Linked DNA regions of Homo sapiens. The protein of the gene in region 1 purifies or fractionates together with the protein of each later gene. This does not show direct contact. Each region holds a gene or a part of one and is shown in the gene's direction. Other genes may lie near its edges.

What was found.
Region 2: the proteins of XPOT (region 1) and RANBP2 fractionate together in Homo sapiens (co-fractionation; one large-scale study listed by BioGRID). This does not show direct contact.
Region 3: the proteins of XPOT (region 1) and NUP205 fractionate together in Homo sapiens (co-fractionation; one large-scale study listed by BioGRID). This does not show direct contact.
Region 4: the proteins of XPOT (region 1) and NUP153 fractionate together in Homo sapiens (co-fractionation; one large-scale study listed by BioGRID). This does not show direct contact.
Region 5: the proteins of XPOT (region 1) and NUP98 fractionate together in Homo sapiens (co-fractionation; one large-scale study listed by BioGRID). This does not show direct contact.
Region 6: the proteins of XPOT (region 1) and GCSH fractionate together in Homo sapiens (co-fractionation; one large-scale study listed by BioGRID). This does not show direct contact.
Region 7: the proteins of XPOT (region 1) and ZDHHC5 purify together in Homo sapiens (co-immunoprecipitation; one large-scale study listed by IntAct). This does not show direct contact.

The regions. Positions count from the first base shown.
Region 1 is NC_000012.12:64,414,392-64,417,891, forward strand, and holds part of XPOT (exportin-T), read left to right. Parts: intron 1-515; coding exon 516-598; intron 599-2,306; coding exon 2,307-2,363; intron 2,364-3,500. UniProt on the Homo sapiens protein: Mediates the nuclear export of aminoacylated tRNAs. In the nucleus binds to tRNA and to the GTPase Ran in its active GTP-bound form. Docking of this trimeric complex to the nuclear pore complex (NPC) is mediated through binding to nucleoporins.
Region 2 is NC_000002.12:108,725,982-108,729,481, forward strand, and holds part of RANBP2 (E3 SUMO-protein ligase RanBP2), read left to right. Parts: intron 1-3,150; coding exon 3,151-3,218; intron 3,219-3,500. UniProt on the Homo sapiens protein: E3 SUMO-protein ligase which facilitates SUMO1 and SUMO2 conjugation by UBE2I. Involved in transport factor (Ran-GTP, karyopherin)-mediated protein import via the F-G repeat-containing domain which acts as a docking site for substrates.
Region 3 is NC_000007.14:135,560,917-135,564,416, forward strand, and holds part of NUP205 (nuclear pore complex protein Nup205), read left to right. Parts: intron 1-3,500. UniProt on the Homo sapiens protein: Plays a role in the nuclear pore complex (NPC) assembly and/or maintenance. May anchor NUP62 and other nucleoporins, but not NUP153 and TPR, to the NPC.
Region 4 is NC_000006.12:17,614,537-17,617,231, reverse strand, and holds the end of NUP153 (nuclear pore complex protein Nup153), read left to right. Parts: intron 1-536; coding exon 537-705; intron 706-1,050; coding exon 1,051-1,135; 3' UTR 1,136-2,195; downstream 2,196-2,695. UniProt on the Homo sapiens protein: Component of the nuclear pore complex (NPC), a complex required for the trafficking across the nuclear envelope. Functions as a scaffolding element in the nuclear phase of the NPC essential for normal nucleocytoplasmic transport of proteins and mRNAs.
Region 5 is NC_000011.10:3,721,055-3,724,554, reverse strand, and holds part of NUP98 (nuclear pore complex protein Nup98-Nup96 isoform 1 precursor), read left to right. Parts: intron 1-1,099; coding exon 1,100-1,398; intron 1,399-3,500. UniProt on the Homo sapiens protein: Plays a role in the nuclear pore complex (NPC) assembly and/or maintenance. NUP98 and NUP96 are involved in the bidirectional transport across the NPC. May anchor NUP153 and TPR to the NPC.
Region 6 is NC_000016.10:81,086,396-81,089,895, reverse strand, and holds part of GCSH (glycine cleavage system H protein, mitochondrial precursor), read left to right. Parts: intron 1-2,231; coding exon 2,232-2,295; intron 2,296-3,500. UniProt on the Homo sapiens protein: The glycine cleavage system catalyzes the degradation of glycine. The H protein (GCSH) shuttles the methylamine group of glycine from the P protein (GLDC) to the T protein (GCST).
Region 7 is NC_000011.10:57,685,114-57,688,613, forward strand, and holds part of ZDHHC5 (palmitoyltransferase ZDHHC5), read left to right. Parts: intron 1-3,394; coding exon 3,395-3,500. UniProt on the Homo sapiens protein: Palmitoyltransferase that catalyzes the addition of palmitate onto various protein substrates such as CTNND2, CD36, GSDMD, NLRP3, NOD1, NOD2, STAT3 and S1PR1 thus plays a role in various biological processes including cell adhesion, inflammation, fatty acid uptake, bacterial sensing or cardiac functions.

The DNA.
Region 1 (3,500 bases):
ATGATATAATTAAAGACTTGAAATACTCTCCTGTGTAACAGTAGATCAGATAAGGTACACAGTATGTTTTATCTTTTATAATCACCGCTTTAATAGCAGATGTGCTATTAAATAGGAAAAGTGCCCTTCACGTGCCATTTTATAATTGCATATTATAAAATGATCACACCCTTAACTCATCCTCTGCAATTTCTCAGTAGTATGGCACTTGACAAAGCACTTGCTCTCATTCTTCATAATAACCCCATGAAGGCTGCGGGGCATTTTTGTGTTGTTGCTGCTGTAAGAAAACAGGTTTGATTATCTAACTGATGGAATTTATATTTATTTAACCTATTTTTAGGAATGACCCCAAGTTGCATATATTCGGAAGCCTGCATTTAATGTTTTAACTGTTTTTCTATTAAGTTTACTGATTTGTTATAGGTTTGCAACTCTCAGAATATTTTGTTTATATTAGCAGGGCATTGAGATTGTTTATTCTAAATGCATTTTTTTGTTTTGCAATCTTATAGGCCCTGGCCTATTTTGAGCAGTTAAAAATTTCCCCAGATGCCTGGCAGGTGTGTGCAGAAGCTCTAGCCCAGAGGACATACAGGTAATTAAAAACAAAATTTGCATGACAATTTAAATTTCTGTGGACATGACAGGACTGTGAAATTTACCTGTATTTGGAAAGTGTTTTCATAAAAACATTTTATGACTTTTTTTTTTTTTTGCAAAGCCATTAACATATAGTCATTCCATGTAGAAATGAGAAAAGTAGTAAACCCAGTTTGGCCATTTCAGAATTAACTTTTCAGTAAAACCATCCTTTGGTATATATTGTGTACCTGTCACCAGATCCCAGCTGGAATAAAGTGCAGTAAAAACTTCCTTATCTTATGATTGAGGGTGATAACTGCTTTCCTAAAACTTTGGTAAAGACGGTGATTGTAAATGATATATATCTTAATTTTAAAATTATTTATTTATTTTATTATTATTATTATTATTTTCTTGAGATGGAGTCTCGCTTTGTCGCCCAGGCTGAAGTGCAGTGGCGCAATCTAGGCTCACTGCAAGCTTCGCCTCCTGGGTTCTTGCCATTCTCCTGCCTCAGCCTCCTGAGTAGCTGGGACTACAGGTGCCCATCACCATGCCCGGCTAATTTTTTTGTATTTCTTTTTGGTGGAGACAGGGTTTCACTGTGTTGGCCAGGATGGTCTCGATCTCCTGACCTTGTGATCCGCCCGTCTCGGCCTTCCAAAGTGCTGGGATTACAGGCGTGAGCCACCGTACCCGGCCTATATCTTAATTTTTAATTTTAACTTAAGGTATATAATCATTCGGTGACCAATCTTTTAATATTGGACCACAGTCTTTATCTTTGTATACTAACTAGCATTCACTTTATTCGTAGGTTGGTCACACCTGTAACCCATCCTCTACAATTTCTAGCATGGGTCTCTGTACAATGAGTGACGATCCATAGATTTTTAAGATATTTGTCCCCGCCTCTCAAGTCTTCTGGTTATATAGGCCATGTCAAATATGTACAAGATTTTTTCCTTCTGCAGTGTGGCTTTCTATGAAATCTTTCTAAAGCATTCAACTAACTTTTTACGGAAATAGGAACTCTCTTATACTCACTTCATTGGCAGATTGTTGGTCTCTAGAAGATCTTTGTCAGTGTTTATAGCTGGCTAACTGCAACTCTGCCACTCCCCTAGAAAGACAGTTGGAAGTGGGTAATTGGTGTGTTGACTTTTGCCCCCATCTTGTATAAGCAAGGGTACCATATTTGTAATTTAGTGTCCTGTACGAAACTTTGAAGTTGGACTGACAGTCCATGTGGCCCTGCTTGTTTTGGATTTGGCTACAATAGAACTACTGGGGTTGAATTTTAAGCAGGACTTGGACGACCATCTTTACTTTCACTCAGACTCTGTCTGTTCTGCCATTTGTAATTTTACACCTAACCTGTTATTGTAAAATGAAGGGACTGTTCCAGGAATCTTAATATCTGGAATTTAGAGGGATGGTTTGCTGCTTACAAAGCATTGTATTCAAGGTGCATCTTAATATCTTGGTTAGTTTGCTTGTCAGATTTAATGGAAATTTTAAATATTGTGTAATATTTAGAGTTCTCATAGCTTTTTAAGTAAATGGATTTTAATGTCATAAAATGAGACCAGTAAGTATGAAACAAGCCAAAGGTCTAGTTTGAGAAACTTTTCTGCTGTATTACTCATTACTATTTTGCCTTTGATTTGTTTTCCTCAGTTCATATTCTGCTTATCTCATTTTCTTTTTTTCTTTTTCAGTGATGATCATGTGAAGTTTTTCTGCTTTCAAGTACTGGAACATCAAGTTAAATACAAGTAAGGCTTTTCTTACTGTTTTGACTCAGATTTGCGGGGAGAGGTCATTTTTTTAATTTAATGTTTTTCTTCCATAAGGAAACCATAATACAGGTTGTAAATTCACAGTGTATATGTTATATCCAGGTTATAGATACGTTTTGATGTACCCCAAAGTGTTTTAAAAGTGCTGAGTTGGCCAGGTGAGGTGGCTCTCGCCTGTAATCCGAGCACTTTGGGAGGCTGAGGCCGGTAGATCACTTGAAGTCAGGAGTTTGAGACTAACCAGCCTGGCCAACATGGTGAAACCCCGTCTCTACAAAAAATACAGAAACTAGTCAGATGTGGTGGCATGCACCTGTAATCCCAGCTACTCAGGAGACTGAGGCACGAGAATTGCTTGAACCTGGGAGGCGGAGGTTGCAGTGAGCCGGGATCACACCACTGCACTCCAGACTGGGTGACAGCGAGACTCCGTCTCAAAAATAAAAAAAGTGCTGAGTTTGTTGGTTACACATAAAAATCCAAGGCTGGGCGCAGTGGCTCATGCCTATGATCTCAGCACTTTGGGAGTCCAAGGCAAGAGGATCGTTTGAGCTCAGGAGTTTGAGACCAGCCTAGGCAACATAGTGAGACCTCATCTCTACAAAAATTTTTTTAAAAAATTAGCCAGGCATGATTGCGCGCTTCTGTATTCCCAGCTACTGGGGAAGCTGAGGCCAGGAGGTTGAGGCTCCAGTGAGCCATGATGGTGCCACTGCACTTCAGCCTGGGCAATACAGCAAGACCTTGTCTCAAAAAAAAAAAAAAAAATGAAAATCCAGATATTTCACAGAAAAATCTAGATTTCCAGCTTTTCTGGAAAAGTCAGAATATCTGGTAACACCAGGCCTGTTTTTCTACATGACAATTCTCTCTTAGAGTTAAGTAGCTGCATGGGCACTTGTGTTCAGAATCTCTGACTTACTAATTAAGCAAAATAACAAATCACTACTGAGAGGATTCCTAGTTCACCTATTGGTTTATTCTGTAGATCACAGACCACAAAACATTTTCATTCGAAAAATTGTGTAGCCATCATTTGTTTCAACATGAACAGAATCACAAATTAAAGATTGATATTGATGCCCTACCTGCCACTCTTGTCCTTATCTTTAA
Region 2 (3,500 bases), on another chromosome or scaffold:
AATTGCTTTCTTAATTTCCTTTTCTGATTGTTCGTTGCTGGTACAGTAGTCCCTTCTTATCCACAGTATTGCCTTACGTGGTTTTACTTAGCTGTGTCACCCGTGGTCCAAAAATATTGAATGGAAGATTATATAAATAAACATTTCATGAGTTTTAAATTGCAAACGGTTCTGAATAACATGGTAAAAATCTCACGGCCTCCTGCTCCGTCCTACCTAGGACACAAGTCATCCCTTTGTCCGACATATTCATGCTGTATGTGCTCGCCACCCGCTAGTTACATACTAGTCATCTCAGTTATCAGATCAGTTGTTGGAGTATTGCAGTGCTTGTGTTCAAGTAACCTTTATTTTATTTAAAATGGCACCAAAGAGCAAGAGTAGCGATGCTGGCAGTTCACATATGCAGAGAGAAGCCATATAGTGCTTCCTTTAAGTGAAGAGGTGAGTTTTTTTGTTTTTTTTTTTTTTTGGCTTAAACAACAGAAATTTATTTTCTCATGGTTCTGGAGGCTAGAAGCGGCAGATCAGGGTGCTGCTGCTTTGGTTCCTGATGAGGGCTTTCTTCCTGGCTTATAGGTTGGCTGGCATCTTGTCCTCACATGGCAGAGGGAGAGTACTGTAGTCTCACCTTGCTTTTTATTATTATTATTTTTTTAATTTATTTTTTTATTGATAATTCTTGGGTGTTTCTCACAGAGGGGGATTTGGCAGGGTCATGGGACAATAGTGGAGGGAAGGTCAGCAGATAAACAAGTGAACAAAGGTCTCTGGTTTTCCTAGGCAGAGGACCCTGCAGCCTTCCGCAGTGTTTGTGTCCCTGATTACTTGAGATTAGGGAGTGGTGATGACTCTTAACGAGCATGCTGCCTTCAAGCATCTGTTTAACAAAGCACATCTTGCACCGCCCTTAATCCATTTAACCCTGGGTGGACACAGCACATGTTTCAGAGAGCACAGGGTTGGGGGTAAGGTCACAGATCAACAAGATCCCAAGGCAGAAGAATTTTTCTTAGTGCAGAACAAAATGAAAAGTCTCCCATGTCTACTTCTTTCTACACAGACACGGCAACCATCCGATTTCTCAATCTTTTCCCCACCTTTCCCGCCTTTCTATTCCACAAAACCGCCATTGTCATCATGGCCCGTTCTCAATGAGCTGTTGAGTACACCTCCCAGACGGGGTGGTGGCCGGGCAGAGGGGCTCCTCACTTCCCAGTAGGGGCGGCCGGGCAGAGGCGCCCCTCAGAAGAGGTGAGTTTTTGACTTAGGAAAGAAAAAAGATCATATACTGGAGTTGCTAAGATCTATGGTAAGAACAAATCTTTTGTCCATGAAATTGTGAAGAAGGAAAAAGAAATTTGTGCTAGTTTTGTTGTGACACCCCAAACTGCAAAAGTTACAGCCATAGTGTGTGATAAGTGCTTAGTTGAGATGGACAAGACATTAAATTTGTGGGTGGAGGACACAAACAGGAAACATGTTTCGATTGACGGCAACCTGGTTTGATACTATTCATCGTTTTGGACATTCACTGGGGTCTTGGAATTTCAAAAATAAGATGTTTGAGTAGCTGTATACTCTTTATCACATGGATGGAACATACTCTGGTTGTATCAGCATTTTTTTTTTTTTTTTTTTTGAGATGGAATCATTCTGTTGCCCACGCTGGAGTGCAGTGGTGCGATCTTGGCCCACTGCAGCCTCTGCCTCCCGGATTCAAGCGATTCTTTGCCTCAGCCTCCCAAGCAGTGGGGATTACAGGGGTGTGCCACCATGCCCAGCTAATTTTTGTATTTTTAGTAGAAAGGAGGTTTCTGCATGTTGGCCAGGCTGGTCTCGAACTCTTGGCTTCAGGTGATCCGCCCGCCTCGGTCTCCGAAAGTGCTGGGATTACAGGTGTGAGCCACCGCACCCAGCCTGGTGTGCATCAGCATTTTGGACTTTGGAGTTTATGTAACCAAGGAGCCAGGCTGTGGACCTCGTTTATTACTTGAAGAATTCAATATTTATTTCTGCCTTTTTGACTCCTTGACTGTAAAATACTGATCTGATCTGTAGAGAGAACAGTACATGGACCAGGGAATCCTCAGTGCCTTAATAGATCCTAAGTACTTACTTATTCTTTCCCATAGAGGCTTACACATGGTAGGAAAAGAGATTTCTGGAATACCTTTCCTCCCCAAAGAAAGCTGGTTTCTTTTGTTTGTTAAGTGAGAGAGTGGTACCACAGGGTTTCCAAGATTTCCAAGGCTGATGAAAATTCTTCTGTTGTCTGCTTGTCTTACTTTCTTGAATTTATTTTTTGTATGTTATGTATTTATTATTTAGAGAGAGGATCTCCCTGTGTCACCCACGCTGGAGTGCAGTGTCACAGTCATAACTCACGGCAGTGTCAACCTCCTGGGCTCAAGTGATTCTCCTTCCTTGGCCTCCTGAGTAGCTAGGAACACAGGCATGCTCCACTATGCCTGGCTATTTTTTTCTCCCTGGAGACAGGATCTTGTTGTGTTGCACAGGCTGGTTTCAAACTCTTGGCCTCAAAGCTAGCCTCCCACCTTGGTCTCTGAAAGTGCTAGAATTAAAGGTGTGACCAACTGCACCCAGCTTATTTATGATGATGATGATGATGATGATGATGATGATGATGATGATGATGTTTGGGAGATGGAGTCTCGCTCTGTCGCCCAGGCTGGAGTGCAATGGCACGATCTCAGCTCACTGCAACCTCTGGCTCACTGCAACCTCCACCTCCTGGGTTCAACTGATTCTCGTGCCTTAGCCTCCCGAGTAGCTGGGGTTACAGGCACCCACCATCATGCCTGGCTAATTTTTGTATTTTTGTCAAGACGGGGTTTCACCATGTTAGCCAGGCTGGTCTCAAACTCCTGACCTCAGGTGATCCGCCCACTTCGGCCTCCCAAAGTGCTGGGATTACAGGCATGAGCCGCTGCACCCAGCTCTATTTTTTGTTTTGTGATAGGAAATTATAAAACATGGAATTATGCATTTGTCAGCCTTTAAAAAAACTTTTAAGTGAATGAAAGTGGCGTATTTGAACATCAACTTAGGACAGATTTTTACTACTTTTGAAAAAATGTTGGAAAATATTTCTGTATGAAAAGTAAAACAACTTTTAATTTTTTTTAGAAGTCAATGAAAGGATTCTATTTTGCAAAGCTGTATTATGAAGCTAAAGAATATGATCTTGCTAAAAAGTAAGTACAAACTGTAACATGTATTTTTTTTTTAAAATCAATGCCTTTTCTCATTTTCTTCTTTGAAATAGGTAAAAATATGTTCTTAGTAGTTCTTCCTAAGTGTATTCTGGAATAAGGGATTTATCACTCAGACTGATGCTAAGGACCAGCCTAGATTCCATTGAGATTGAAACCGTAATTAGTGTTTTCTGCATGCTGCTGCTTTATACCAAGGGCAAGAAATTGTTTGGCTTCAAATACTTTTTCTAAAAATTGTCTTCTGTTGGAGTAAAAGAGGAC
Region 3 (3,500 bases), on another chromosome or scaffold:
TGAACACTGCTGAACTGTACACTTAAAATTTGTTGAGATTGCATTCTATGTTATGTGCTTCCTTTAAATTACAGTTTTAAAAAATCAAACATCTTGGAGTTGTAAGGAAAAAATACAGAGATTGTAGAGTTCTAAGACCTATGGTTGGCCAGGTGTGGTGGCTTATGCCTGTAATCCCAGCACTTTGGGAGGCTGAAGTGGGCAGATCACCTGAAGTCAGGAGTTCGAGACCAGCCTGGCCAACATGGTGAAACCCTGTCTCTACAAAAATACAAAAATTAGCCTGGCATGATGGCAGGTGTCTGTAATCCCAGCTACTCGGGAGGCTGAGGCAGGAGAATTGCTTGAACCCAGGAGGAGGAGGTTGCAGTGAGCCGAGATCATACCACTGCACTCCAGCCTAGGCAACAGAGCGAGACTCTGTCTTAAAAACAAACAAACAAAAAACAAACAAAAAAACCTATGCTTGTATTTCAGCTGTATAACTTAACTAGTCTTGTGACCTGTATCAACCTGGCTGAGTACACTCACAGACTTGTGAATAAGCAACTATTAACACTGCTTGGCAGTCCTTCTGTGATAGTCTGGTCACCTCGTCCATTCACAGCAGTGACTACTTCAGACCTTTCTACACTCTTCAAATCTTTAACCTGCAACTAACTAAACCCTCAGACTTCTAGTCACAGAGAAAATAGGAGCCAACATACATGAACTCCCTTTATTCACTCTCAAACCTACAAACCTAGGTGTGTCTGCATTCTTTTGAATCACTTTTCCTCTGTCTTCCTATCTAATGTAAATCCCACCCATTGTGTTCTTCACCTGTTACCCCTTTTTTTGTCTTGTATATTCACTTCTCTCTCTTGCTCTTCCCTTTCTCTCCACTGATGATCTCATGCGTCACTCCACTTACTGTCCTCTTCCTAGTCAAGCCTTTCAAAAGATTTGTTAGTATTCATGGACTCCATCTCCTTCCTTCCTTTGTTCCTTCCTTCCTTCCCTCCTTCCTTCCTTCCTTCCTTCCCTCCCTCCCTCACTCTGCCCAGGCTGGAGTGCAGTGGTGCAGTCTCGGCTCACTGCAGTCTCCACCTCCCAAGTTTAAATGATTCTCCTGCCTCAGCCTAGTAGCTGGGATTACAGGCCTGAACTGCTATGCCCAGCCTACTGACTCCCTTTTCATACCTCCTATTCCTTCACCCATTCTGGTCTCTTCCATCCTTGTAAACAGCTCTCAATAGGGTTAACTTCTGTTTCTTGTAGTTCAGAAAGTTCCTTTTTAAAAAATTATTTTTTATTTTGAGACAGGGGCTCATTCTGTCGCCCAGACTGGAGTGCGGTGGTGTGATCTCAGCTCACTACAACCTCTGCCTCCCAGGTTCAAGAGATTCTCCTGCCTTAGCCTCCCTAAGTAGCTGGGATTACAGGCGCCCACCACCACACCTGGCTAATTTTTGTAATTTTAGTAGAGATGGGGTTTCACCACGTTGGCCAGGGGTGCCTCGAATTTCTGACCTCAAACGATTCACCTGCCTCGGCCTCCCAAAGTGCTGGGGTTATAGGCATGAGCAGAAAGTCCCCATGTTTTAAATCTTCATTTGGCTTGATCTTTTAGAGTAAAGACCAAAATCCTTTTTTTTTTTTTTTTTTTTTGAGACAGAGTCTGGCTCTGTTGCCAGGCTGGAGTGCAGTGGCGCGATCTTGGCTCACTGAAACCTCTGCCTCCCAAGTTCAAGCGATTCTCTTGCCTCAGCCTCCTGAGTAGCTGGGACTACAGGCGTGCGCCACCACACCCAGCTAATTTTTGTATTTTTAGTAGAGCAGGGTTTCACCGTGTTGGCCAGGATGGTCTTGATCTCCTGACCTCGTATCTGCCCGCCTCGGTATCCCAAAGTGCTGGGATTACAGGCCTGAGCCACCACACTCGGTCATCAAAATTCTTTAACGTGGGCAAGTGAGCCCTGTGTGATGATCTTGCCAAACCCGTTTTCTGTACTGCAGCTCTCTTGGCCTTTTGAGTTCTTTGACATGCCGCATTCCCTCTTGCCATGGAAACCCACAGGTTGTCCTCTCCCTGGAATGCATGTCTTCACCTCCCACCTGTCAGTTAACTATCACTTTTGTTCTTCAGATTTCAGCCTAGTTATCACTTCCTCATGGATAATTCTTTCCTCTGGCTAGGTCAGAGTCCCCTATTATGTGATCTCTTGCCCTGGCTACCTCTCCTTCATATCCTTCATATCCTGACCACAGTTGGATTTTATTTTATTTTTATTTATTTTTTTATTTTTTGAGATGGAGTCTTACTCTGTAGCCCAGGCTGGAGTGCAGTGGCGTGATCTCGGCTCACTGCAGCCTCCGCCTCCTGGGTTCAAGCGATTCTCCTGCCTCAGCCTCCCTAGCAGCTGGGACTACAGGCGCATGCCATCACGCCTGGCTAATTTTTTGTATTTTTGGTAGAGACGGGGTTTCGCTGTGTTGGCCAGGACGGTCTTGATCTCCTGACCTCGTGATGTGGCCCGCCTTGGCCTCTCAAAGTGGTGGGATTACAGGCGTGAGCCACTGTGCCCGGCCAGATTTTACATTTATGTATGATTATGATTAATGTTTTTCCTCACTGCAGTATAATCTTACCAATACCTCACACATGGTGAATGAGTGAGTAAATGTGATTTGCTGGAGGTATCCCTAAACATTAAGGAAAATAAATGTATTTCTCAACTGACTAAACTACATGGTAAAAATACATATTTAGTAATTTTGAAAAATTTATAGTGTCCCTTCATTTGTAATCAGTAAAAAAGATATTTACTGTAATCCTAGCACTTTAGGAGGCTGAGGAGGGAGGATCACTTGAGGCCAGGAGTTCAAGGCAAGCCTGGGCAACATAGCAACATCCCAGTTCTACAAAAAATACAAAAATTAGCCAGGTCTGGTGGTGCGCGTGCGCCTGTAATCCTAGCTACTAGAGAAGCTGAGGCAGGAGGTTGCTTGAGCCCAGGAGTTTGAGGCTGTAATGAGCTGTGATTGCCTCACTGCACTCCAGCCTGGGTGACAGCAAGACCCTGTCACAAAAAACAAACAAAAAAAAGGTGTTTACTGAAATTGGTCAAACTCAAGACAGATTGAAGATAACTCTTTGTTGCGGCTACCTTTGGTGTTTTTTTTTTCTTTTTCTTCTTTGAGACGAGGTTTCACTCTGTTGCCCACGCTGGAGTGCAGTGGCTCAGTCATGGCATACTACAGCCTCTACCCTCTGAGACTCAGGTGATCCTCCCACTTCAGCCTCATGAGTAGCTGAGACTATAGGCACAAGCCACCATGCCCAGCTATTTTTTTTTTTTTTTTTTTGAGACGGAGTCTTGCCCTGTCACCCAGGCTGGAGTGCAATGGCATGATCTCAGGTGACTGCAACCTCTGCCTCCTGGGTTCAAGCAATTCTCCTGCCCCGGCCTCCCAAGTAACTGGGATTACAGGTGTTAGCCACCATGCCCAGCTAATTT
Region 4 (2,695 bases), on another chromosome or scaffold:
CCAGGGTGCCCTTTTCCCCTTGGTCATAGGTAAGTTGTGTGATTTGTTGGAGGTGTCAAGTATGTACTATGTGTCAGTGGAGAAAATAGTTTTCTTTAGATTAAAAGACCAGAATATTTTAATTCTTTGCATGTTTTTATATGTAAAGGTCAGAGTCTTTAATTTAAAAACCTATCATGTTGCGGCCGGGTGCAGTGGCTTACGCCTGTAATCCAGCACTTTGGGAGGCCGAGGTGGACAGATCACAAGGTCAGGAGATCGAGACCATCCTGGCCAACATGGTGAAACCACGTCTCTACTAAAATACAAAAAATTAGCCAGGCATGGTGGCACGCACCTATATAGTCCCAGCTACTGGGGAGGCTGAGGCAGGGGAATCACTTGAACCCAGGAGGCAAGGGTTGCAGTGAGCCAAGATTGTGCCACTGTACTCCAGCCTGGGCAAGAGAGCGAGACTCCGTCTCAAAAAACAAACAAACAAACAAAAAAACCTATCATTTTGCCCTAATGAAGTATTTCTGCTTTAACTATTGCAGGTTCGGCTTTCCAGTTTGGCAGCAGCACTACAAATTTCAACTTCACAAACAACAGTCCATCAGGAGTGTTCACATTTGGTGCAAATTCTAGCACACCTGCAGCCTCAGCCCAGCCTTCAGGCTCGGGGGGCTTTCCATTTAACCAGTCTCCAGCAGCATTTACAGTGGGGTAAGAGAATTTTTTATTGAAATGGAGAAGTTACATTGGTAAGGGTATGTGCATGTATATGTTTTGTTTTTAAAAGTCATCAAGATTCCGTATGGTTTGGGTAAAATTAAATATGTTCTCCAACATAAATTTACCATACTATAATTCTGGAGGATTATATTACAGTTTGAGAAAAAAATAACAGTAGCGTGTGTGTTAGGTGTAGCAGAAAATGTATATACCAATGTGAGTCTACTCCCCCCCCACCCGACCCCCCTTACCCTTGTGCTGCTCATGGTAAATGTTAGCATTTGGAAATTTTGCTCAGAGCATCATGTCACATTATGAAGTTTTTATTTTTCACAGGTCAAATGGGAAAAATGTGTTCTCTTCTTCTGGAACTTCATTCTCTGGTCGCAAGATAAAGACTGCTGTTAGACGCAGGAAATAAAGGTCACATTGGTGTTGTACTCAATTTTAACAACAGCTGGTGCCCTGCTTTCAGATACTGGATTGTACTTTGTGCTGGGGTTATCTGAAGTCAGATCTGCCTAAGGACTTCTTTAATTTTGGAATTTTCCTCCTTTCTCTTTCGTTACAGAAGCCCCACCCTGCCTCACCCACCCTTTTTTAAATAAATAAATAGCTAGACTGGTGACTGATTCTTCAGCAAAAATATTTTATGATCCAGCAGATTATTCACTGATTTGACATAGTCTGGCTGTACCCAGGAATGGAGCCTGCACGGTGAATGGCTTTGTATAGAACCTCTTTGTCTACACCATTATGTGCGCTGATAAGCGTTCATGGAACGCGTTGAAATTGTAATTATATCTGAGGAATTCTGTATAGATTAGAATTCTGTATAGATTAGAGAGTGTTGAAACGGATGATTTCTATGCTGAGTTTGTGCTGGTGTATGTGTGAAGTGAGTGAGTTGGGTGTATTGTGCGCTAAACTTTTCTGATAGAGGAAGCCTGATTAAAGAATGGTCCGTGCTAAGGACTTGTTAGATCTAGTTCACTCTCCATTTAATAATTATATGCTATTTCTATATTTTCATTCTCCTATCACCTGTCTTGCCTTTTTCATTATTTTATTATGAAACTTGTGTAAATACAATTTTGTTTCTGTACTTTTTGGCATAACATAAATCTGTGAACTTGAAATTTGAATTTTGTGTTAGAGATTTTTTTGTTGTTTGTTTAGTCTTGTCTCAGATTTTATTATGTAAATCCCATTATTCAAAGTTGCCTAAATCCATTTGGAAATCTTTAAAAAAAAAATTGGGGATTCTTAAAGTTGAATTTATTGGCTTTTCTGATCCAGTTTTGTTTGGACCAAAAACCAGTATTGTACAAAGTATTAAGCATATATTTTTATATTTACTAAAATGGACTGTGGTGACTTTGGATAATAAGGAAAAGTTTAATATTAAAGCCATGTTTATTACAGTATAATTAACATGTTAAACCATGGGATAAATGCCATCAATAAAAAATTATGACATACTTTTTGTTCTAGTTTTACCTCATAATGAAGGCACACAGTATTATTGGGGGGACTTTGTAAAATAAAGATTAACAGTGTCTCATTAGAAGAATACATTGACATGATTTAGACAACTCCTAAGAGAAAGGGAAAGTATCTGAAAGTATCTGAATGCACAACATATAGAAGGTACCCTACTTCTTGCCTGGTGCTAGGAATCATGCCTAATTTGCATATCGACTTAGGTACCTTTTTTAAAAGTTGAAAATACACACATTCATTTCTCTTTGTGCTTCTATCTTCCTTGGTAAGTTACTGGATAGTGTTTATTAAAGTTCTTGGAAATACATACACAAAAACTACAGTTGTCTCTTGGTGTGTGCAGGAGATTGTTCCCAGAACTGCACTCCCCCCCCCCCCCAGTTCTCCCGCCCCCAAACCACAATCCACAAATTTCAGCAGTGGACCCTGCAGAACCTGAGTATACCAAAAGCCAGCCCTCCGAATGTGCAGGTTTTAT
Region 5 (3,500 bases), on another chromosome or scaffold:
CTCCTAAAACGTTGGTATTACATGCGTGAGCCACCGTGCCCAGCCTTGTACAGTGATTCTTAATAGTTAGGTATATATTCTTTCATATCAGAAATTTATTTATTTATTTTTTTTTTTTGAGATGGAGTTTTGCTCTTATTACCCAGGCTGGAGTGCAGTGGCACGATCTCGGCCCACTGTATCCTCTGATGTGAATTGTTCAAGCAATTCTCCTGCCTCAGCCTCCTGAGTAGCTGGGATTACAGGCATGCACCTCCACGCCCAGCTAATTTTTTTTGTATTTTTAGTAGAAACAGGGTTTCGCCATGTTGGTCAAGCTGGTCTTGAACTCCTGACCTCAAGCGATCCACCCGCCTCGGCCTCACAAAGTGCTGGGATTACAAGCGTTATCCACCACACCCAGCCGAAATTTCTTTCTTTATAAATATATTTTATTATATAAAGATTATGCACGAATGATATATTCTGTAACCTGCTTATTTCCATTTATTTTATTAGAAATGCCTTTCCATTATCTGTATGAATATATTTGTCTTTTCTTTTTTAATGATTGCATAAGTCATTATTGTGAATGTAAGATAACTTGACCAGTTCCTTGTTAGTGGACATTTAGATTATCCGGTATTCCTGTACTCAAAACAGTGCTTCAGTAAAAATCCTTATATACTGGCACAAGTTCTCAGGGCCTCCTGAGGGCTGTATCACGAAAAAGAAAAAAAAAAAAAGAAACCCTTTGTATAGACACCTTTGTACTCCTGTTTTTTTTTTCTTTTGGATAAAATTCTAGTGTTTTTTATTATTATTATTATTTATAAAGCATTTTTTAACATTTTGTTGATTGTAATCTTAAAAATCTAACATTTTTTTCAGTTTTTAATCTTAAAATTAACCAATTATTTGATTCCATATAGGAGAGTATACAATAGAGATAGTAATTATCTGTTTCACAGTACTGCTGTAGTAAGTATTAAGTGAATTTTTAATACATGGAACTATCCAGAACAGTGCCAGGCACTTAGTAAAGGCTCGGTATTAGTTAGCTATTATCATTGTTATTACTACTACAAGAGGCTAAGGTATTATTTCTTTTCCTTTGCAGATTTAGTTTCCTAAGCAAACCTGTTGATGAGAATCACCAGCAGGATGGAGATGAAGATTCCCTTGTTTCACATTTTTATACTAACCCTATTGCCAAACCTATTCCTCAAACCCCAGAAAGTGCTGGAAATAAACACAGCAACAGCAACAGTGTGGATGATACCATTGTTGCATTAAACATGCGTGCTGCTTTGCGAAATGGGCTGGAAGGAAGCAGTGAAGAAACGTCTTTTCATGATGAGTCACTTCAGGATGACCGAGAAGAAATAGAAAATAATTCTTACCATATGCACCCAGCAGGTCAGGTTCAGATTGGTGCATGTTTAATCTCTTACCAGTCATTCGAGATGACTTGCTTGTTGCAGATATTCAACATATGGAAGTCAGCTGTTTGGCATTTTAAGTATTATTTTATGTGATCCCACATAGGAGAGCTTAATATTTAAACAGTTTTATGCTTTAGTTGATTCAGAGTTCACATACTCTTTGGACCTTAGAGTATGAAAATTGATACATCTTTAATTATCCTGGTGTAGTCTAAAGAACCCAAATTTTATAGCCAAAGAGACTATCCTGATATTTTCCCTGGCTTTGTAAACTCGGATAGATTGCTTATTGTTTTTTGTTTGTTTGTTTGTTTTTTCTTGAGACAGTGTCGCTCTGTCGCCCAGGCTGGAGTGCAGTGTCGCAGTCTTGGCTCACTGCAACCTCAACCTCCAGGGATCAGGACCTCTCATCTCAGCCACCCGAGTAGCTGGCACTACAGGCACATGATACCACACCCCGTTAAGTTTTGCATCTTTTGTTTTGCCATGTTTCCTGGGCTGGTCTCAAAATCCTGGGCTCAAGTGATCCTCCTATCTTGGCCTCCCAAAGTGCTAGGATTACAGGCATGAGCCACCATGCCCAGCCCATTTTGGGTGTTTTGTGGTATTCTTGAAGTGTCTCCAAAATTTATATTTAGTTTTCTTATTGCCATTATATATATATATATATTTGGTTACTTAGTATCATAAGGAAAGAAGTTTATACTTTGACAGTAAGAATCCCAGGTAGCCTGGGTGTGGTGGCTCAGCACTTTGGCAGGCTTAGGTGGGAGGATCGTTTGAACCCAGAAGTTTGAAATCAGTCTGGGCAACATAGCAAGACCTGATATCTACAATAAACTTAAAAGTAATTAGCCAGGTGTGGTGGCATGTACCTGTAGTTGCAGCTACTACGGAAGCTGAGGTGGGAGGATCACTTGAACCCAGGATTCAAGGTTGCAGTGAGCTATGATTATGCCACTGAACTCCAGCCTGGGTTGACAGACCAAGATCCTGTCTCCTAAAAAAAAAAAAAAAAAAAAAAAGAATTCCAGGTGCTTAATCTGTATTTGTGTATGTATCTCTACATGAATTTATTATGCTACTATATATCTTTTTAATAGGAAGTTTTATATTCTAGTTTTTTCATTTACCTTGTTTGCTGCCACCCAATTTAGAGTTCCCTTCCCAAGAAGCAAGTATACAAGTGGGTGTTGCTGGAGGCTGGAGTTTGGTCTGATGTTGGCCTGAAATACTTTTCTCTCAGAGAGCAAGTTAGCCTTATATCTGACTACAAGTAGGACAAGGAGTGAATAGAGCAAGCAAGCACACCAGCGTTCCACTACTTTCCTTGAGTTTTTCAGCGCTCTGCTTTTTTTATTTTGGTATTTTTTTTTCTATTTTAATTTATTCTTTCTTTCTTCTTTTCTTCCTTCCTCCCTCCCTCCCTTCCTTCCGAGTTTCACTCTTGGTTGCCCAGGCTGGAGTGCAGTGGTGTGATCTCAGCTCACTGCATCCTCTGCCTCCCAGGTTCAAGCGATTCTCCTTCCTCAACCTCCCGAGTAGCTGGGATTACAAGCACCCGCCACCATGCCCAGCTAATTTTTGTATTTTTGGTAGATAATGGATTTTTGCCATGTTAGCCAGGCTTGTCTTGGACTCCTGGCCTCAAGTGATTTACTCACCCCGGCCTCCCAAAGTCCTTGGATTACAGGCATGAGCCACCTTGCCTGGCTGGATTTTTCATCTTTCTTTTAGCTCTTTATTTGGGAGTGTAAATTTGAAAAATAAAAGAGGTTTATGCAAAACAGGCAATGAAACAAGAAGAATTGGGTTTGGAGTTTTATATCTACTTCTATTGTTAAATTACAGTATAAGCCAACACAAGTTATTTCCACTGTAGGTTTTGGTATCCTTGTGTGTAAAATAAAATAAAAAGCTGATTAAGCTTTTCTCAGAGTATTTTATGAGATACCTTTTATAGTCCGGGATGTTAATGGGTGTCCTTTGAAAATAATGTTCTGTGGTTAAATCTGGAAAAACACGAGGTTAAGCAGAGTTTAATAGGCTATTTACTGTAAGTTTTAGACTCTTTGA
Region 6 (3,500 bases), on another chromosome or scaffold:
TTGTGGGTCCAGTGATACACACGTGACCAGGAGGACGGGAAGAAAGAAAACCTCAATAGGCACAGATGACACAAAGGGAAGGCTTTTATTCAGCCCATCTTTTCTCTGTAAATTCCCCTCAATTCCATATGGCGATACTGTTTAAGAGAAAATGAGAAGCCAAATCCTAGCGTGTTCAGTGATTTTCAACTGGATGTATGTATTGGGTGAGGCGGGGAAGGGGGGATGTTAACTGATGGGAATGCACTCGTGTCACTTAATGATGGAGCTATGTTCTGATAACTGCCTCCTCGGGGATTGCGTCCTTCTGTGAGCCTCCTAGGGTGCCCTTACACACACCTAGATGGTACAGCCTATTACACACCTTGGCTGTATGGTACAGCCTTTGCTCCTGGGCTACAAACCTGTACAGCATGTTACTGTACTGAATACTGTAGGCAATCGTAACACACTTGGCCTATCAAAACACAGAAAAGGTACAGTAAAAATATGGCATAGGTTGAGCATCTCTAATCCCTGAAATACTCCAAAAATCTGAAACTTTTTGAGCACCAACGTGACTCTTAAAGAAAATGCTCATTGGAGCGTTTTGGATTCCAGAATCTTGGATGAGGAGTGCTCATGTATTAAGTATAATGCGAGTATTCCAAAATCTGAAATCCAAAACACTTCTGCTCCCAAGCATTTTGGACAAGTGATACTAACTATATTATAATTTCATGGGACCACTGTCATATATGTGGTCTGTTGTTGACCAAAATGCCATTAGGCGGCACGTGACTGTACAAAATTCCTCAGACATGTAAGATGCTTGTGTGTTGATAATCACAATTATATCTTCCTTGGCATCTCTGTATACCTACTATGAGGCCCAGTGTTGGATAGTTTTTGAGATGTTGTGTAAGATGTCGTCCTTACCTCCTAGAGTTTATTTGTGAGGGGAATTACCTACATGAGAATGACTTGCAAACATTACATGATGGCATCGGAACGGTGGGGTTGTAATTCACTTACCTGATGGAGAGACCACTTCTTTCTGGAGTCAGGGACTTCAGGGAGTACAAGGTGTGAGGACTATGATTTGTAGAATCAGTGAGCAGGATTTCAGCAAATGCTTTGGGGGCAATGGTGTACATAAAACTACAGAGGTGGAAGAACACCAAATATGTTCATGCCCAGAAGAGCTAGCAGTGTTTGCCGGGCGCAGTGGCTCACACCTGTAATCCTAGCACTTTGGAAGGCCGAGGCAAGTTGATTATCTGAGGTCAAAAGTTCAAGACCAGCTGGCCAACATGGTGAAACTGCATCTCTAGCAAAAAATTTTAAAAAATTAACCAGGCATGGTGGTGGGCACCTGTAATCCCAGCTACTTGGGAGGCTGAGGCAGGAGAATCGCTTGAACCTGGGAGGCAGAGGTTGCAGTGAGCTGAGATCAGGCCACTGCACTCCAGCCTGGGCAACAAGAGAGAAACTCTGTCTCAAAACCAAATAAAACAAAGAGCTAGCAGTCTTGTGTGGGGCAGGAGGCTTGTGTTAGGTTGCTAAAGCCTGTGAGCCAGATCTGGCTGGCGGCTGGTCTCTTGCAGCTCCTGAGTTGAGAATAGTTTTTTAAAATCATTTTATTTTACTTAGTTTTGGAGAACAGGGTCTTGCTATATTGCCAAGGCAGGTCTCAAACTCCTGGGCTCAAGCTATCCTCCCACCTCTGCCTCCCTAAGAGCTGGGATTACAGGCATGAGCCACCGCACCCAGCCATTTATTTTTATTCTTGACATGGAGTCTTGCTCTGTCGCCAAGGCTGGAGTATACAGGTGCAATCTCAACTCACTGCAACCTCTGCCTCCCAGATTTAAGTGATTCTCCTGCCTCAGCCTCCTGAGTAGCTGGGATTGCAAGTGCCTGCCACCACACCCAGCTAATTTTTGTATTTTTATTAGAGACTGGGTTTCACCATGTCAACCAGGCTGGTCTCGAACTTCTGACCTCATGTGATAACACCCACTTTGGGCCTTTCAAAGTGCTGGGATTACAGGCGTGAACTACCACACCTGACTGAGAGTAGTTTTTACATGTTTAAAGGATTTTAAGGAAAACTCAAGAATGTAGCCCCTCCAGTATAAAATATATACTAAATCTTCATTATAGGGGATTCAGTGTTTGGCTTATTCTGTTTACTGGAGGGTTTAGTTATAACTTCTTAGAGATTTTTGGTTTTGTCTTGTTTTATTTAGGAAGCGTTGGGAGATGTTGTTTATTGTAGTCTCCCTGAAGTTGGGACAAAATTGAACAAACAAGGTGAGTGTTCTTAGGATCTTAGAATGATCCATGCCATGAATTTTGTTTACATTGAATAGTAATTTGTTTGTACCCTGGATTAATTAGAGTGCTTTTTTTTTTTTGGAGACAGTCTTGCTTTGTCACCCAGGCTGGAGTGCAGTGGCACCATCTCGGCCCACTGTAACCTCTGCCTCCTGGGTTAAAGCGATTCTTGTGTCTCAGGCACGTGCCACCACGCCCAGCTAATTTTTGTATTGTAGAGACAGAGTTTCCCCATGTTGGCAAGGCTGGTCTCGAACTCCTGACCTCGAGTGATCCGCCCGCCTTGGCCTCCCAAAATGCTGAGATTACAAGTGTGAGCCACCGTGCCCAGCCAATTAGAGTGCTTTTGACCCAAGTATTAGGTTGGTGTAAAAGTAATTGCTACTCAGAGGCTGAGACAGGAGAATTGCTGGAACTTGGGAGGCGGAGGTTGCAGTGAGCCGAGATCCCATCACTGTACTCCAGCCTGGGCAACAGAGCAAGACTCCGTTTTAAAAAAAAGAGAGAAAAAAAGTCTATTAATATCGATATGTTAGATAATATCCTTAAACTAATGAATACCCTTTTAAGACATTCTGCTAAAGGTAGTTTTTTAACTTGATGTAAAATCTACATACAGTGAAATGCATGGACCAGAAGTGTACAATTCAGTGAGTTTTAACAAATGTATACACTTAAATAAACCTTCCTAGTCAAATAGATGACCTCTTCTCTCGTTTCTACACCATAGGTTTATTTTGCCTATTCTTTATATGAAAGGAATCACACAGTGTGTGTTACGTTTGGCTGCTTTTGGGATTTACCAAGCTTCTTGAATCTGTAGATTGAATTTTTTTTCGATTAAATTTGGAGACTTCTTATTTTAGTCATGATTTCTTTCTCTTCCCACTTCATTCCTTTTTCCTTCTCTGATTTGAGACATGTTCGTCATATCACTTGATATTGTCCTATAGGGTCCCTAAGACTGTTAACTTTTCAGCCTTTTTTAAACTGTTCTTTTTTTTTTCTTCTTATTTTTTTGAGACGGAGTCTTGCTCTGTTGCCCAGGCTGGAATGCGATGGTGCGACATTGGCTCACTGCAACCTCCGCCTCCTAGGTTCAAGCAATTCTCCTTTTTCAGCCACCCAAGTAGCTGGGAGTACAGGCATGCACAACCACACCAGGCTAATTTTTTAAATTA
Region 7 (3,500 bases), on another chromosome or scaffold:
CTCCAGCCTGGGCAACAGCAAGACTCCGTCTCAAAAAGAAAGAAAAAAAGAACTTCATTGTGCTCCCAAAGCCTACATCATTGTGCTTTGTTTGTGACTTCCCTTCAAAGATTGGGTGAGGGAAAAGAACTTTGTGTCCCTAAAGCCAAGAAAGGCTATTTTAATGAGCCTTTAATGTTCATTCATCAAATATTTATTGATGTATTATGGAAGGCACTATGATGGTCATTTGGGGTTTTTAAGAAGGTCATTGCTGGCCGGGCGTGGTGGCTTACGCCTGTAATCCCAGCACTTTGGGAGGCCAGGGCGGATCACTTGAGGTCAGGAGTTCGAGACCAGCCTGGCCAACATGGCGAAACCCCGTCTCTACTAAAAATATAAAAATTAGCCAGGCATGGTAGTGCACGTGCCTGTAACCCCAGCTCCTTGGAAGGCTGAGACAGGAGAATTGCTTGAACCTGGGAGGTGGAGGTTGTGATGAGCCGAGATTGCCCCATTGCACTCTAGCCTGGGCGATAAGAGCAAAACTCCATCTGAAGAAAAGTAAATAAAAAATAAAAAGGTCATTCCTTTCAAATAGCTCAGACTAGAAAGGAAGATAGGAAGACACCTCTATAAACAAATACACCGTGGGCCGGGTGCCGTGACTCACGCCTGTAATCCCAACTCTTTGGGTGGCCCAGGTGAGTGGATCACCTGAGGTTGGGAGTTCGAGACAAGCCTGACCAACATGGAGAAACCCTGTCTCTACTAAAAATACAAAATTAGCCGGGCGTGGTGGCGCATGCCTGTAATCCCAGCTACTCGGGAGGCTGAGGCAGGAGAATCGCTTGAACCCGGGAGGTGGAGGTTACTGTGAGCTGAGATTGCGCCACTGCACTCCAGCGACAGTGTGAGACTACATCTCAAAACAAACAAACAAAAAACAAATACATTGTGTAAGAGTAATCAAAGAGATCACTTCTGGTAGATGATGATGTAGAAGGATCAGACATTTCAAAATAAGGAGCATTGCAACTGGGCATGCTGGTGCCCACCTGCGGTTCCAGCTACTTGGGAGGCTGAGGTTGGAGGATCAGTTGAGCCCAGGAGTTCAGGGCTGCAGTGAGCTGTGGTCGCAGCACAGCACTCCAGCCTGGGTGATAGAGCAAAACTCTCTTAAAAGAAAAATAGCATTTGAATTTTTTCCCTTTAAAAGAAAAAAATCTTTTTTTTTTTGAGACAGAGTCTCACTCTCTGTTGCCCAGGCTGGAGTGCAGTGGCTCCATCTCGGCTCACTGCAAACTCTGCCTTTCGGGTTCAAGCAATTATTCTACCTCAGCCTCCCGAGTCGCTGGAATTACAGGAGCGTGCCACCGTGCCTGGCTAATTTTTGTATTTTTAGTAGAGATGGGGTCTCACCATGTTGGCCAAGCTACTCTGGAACTCCTGACCTCAAATGATCCACCTGCCTCACCCTCCCAGAGTGCTGGGATTACAGGCATGAGCCACTGTGCCTGACCAAAAGAAAAAATCTTTTATTTAAAGATTTCAATAAGTAGTGCACATTCATTATGTACGAAGTACAAAAAAGGCAAAACATTACCTATAATTTCACAGACCAGAGCTAACTACTGTTATATTGTGGTATATATCCTTGCAATATTTTGAAGACTTAAAAAATATATGTGTATATTTATGTATACCATGTATCTGCAGTATATATTTGTGTGTGTGTGTGTTTTTTTTTTTTTTCCAGACAGTGTCTTACTCTGTCACCAAGGCTGGAGTGCAGTGGCATGATCTTGGCTTACTGCAACCTCTGCCTCCCAGATTCAAGCCATTCTCCTGCCTCAGCCTCCCAAGTAGCTGGGATTACAGGCGTGTGCCACCACCCCTGGTTAATTTTTATATTTTTTGTAGAGATGGGGTTTCGCCATTTTGGCCAGGCTGGTCTTGAACTCCTGGCCTCAAGTCATCTGCCCTCCTTGGCCTCCCAAAGTGCTGGGATTACAGGCATGAGCCACCGTACCCAGCTGTACAGTTCTTTACCTAGCATTTCTTGTGATGTAAATATGAAAAAATGCTATGTAAAGAAATCAGTAAAATTTGAAAACTTAATTTTTAATTCCACACTATCATCTATTTAATTTTTCCTTCCCACATTTTTTTTTTCTAGGTTAATAATAAAAATTGCTCTGGGTGCGGTGGCCCATGCTTGTAATCTTAATACTTTGGGAAGCTGAGGCAGGTGGATTGCCTGAGCTCAGGAGTTTGAGACCAGCCTGGGGAACACGGTAAAACCCCGTCTCTATTAAAAATACAAAAAATTAGCTGCCGAAGTGGCGTGCGCCTGTAATCCCAGCTGTTTGGGAGGCTGAGACAGAAGTATCACTTGAACCCGGCAGGTGGAGGTTGCAGTGAGCCAAGATCACGCCCTTGCACTCCAGCTTGGGTAACAGAGCAAGACTCCGTCTCAAGAAAAAAAAAATTGCTAACTGTATATGAGAAGGCAAATAATGTCTTTTAAGTTTTGAAATGGGATGGTGGGTTTCTGATAGCTGAAAATTGAGAGAAAGGGCATTTATGCTTGTGCAACAAATAATACTGAAATACGTATATGTAGAGAAAATTCATAGAGTAGGGGAAGACATTTTGGGAAAGTTTTTTTTTTTTTTTTTTTTTTTTTTAAGATGAAGATGAAGTCTTGCTGTGTTGCCCAGGCTTGAGTGCAGTGGCGTGATCTCAGCTCACTGCAACCTCCACTTCCCGGGTTCAAGCGATTCTCTTGCCTTAGCCTCCTGAGTAGCTGGGACTACAGGTGCATGCCACCACACCAGGCTAATTTTTGTGTTTTTAGTAGAGACGAGGTTTCACCATGTTGGCCGTGCTGGTTTTGAACTCCTGAGCTCAGGCAATCCGCCCTTCTCGGCCTCCCAAAGTGTTGGGATTACAGGCGTGAGCCACCATGGTTGGCTGGGCAAAGGATTCGTGCCTGGAAAAAAAGGTTGATGTTAGTTCCTCTCTTGGATTGCTATAGTTCACTCATATAAATGTAGATACTGAACTCTTATGCAAACTCATTATGTATGTGCTTTGATATGTAAACTATTTCTTTAAAATATATTCATATACTTAAACCAAATAACACCAGCAGATGCATACAAGAGCTACCTCTTGAGTCATTTTATCTCGAACCTCACTTCCCAATGCAGAATAAATTGCTCCCTCATCCATGTTCCCATAGTGTTGTATAAAGACCTGACCTCACAGTCTTATAGTTCCTAGTTCCTAGTCTCACTCATTAGACTGTGAATTCCTCAAAGGCAGAAGCTATATTTTAAACATCATTGAATCCCTAGCACTTACTACAGTTCTGGCATAGTTGTTTTTAATTGACTTTTCCTCTCTACAGCTGAGGAGGATGAGGACAAGGAAGATGATTTCCGAGCTCCCCTTTACAAAACAGTGGAGATAAAGGGCATCCAGGTGCGCATGAAATGGTGTGCCACCTGCCGCTT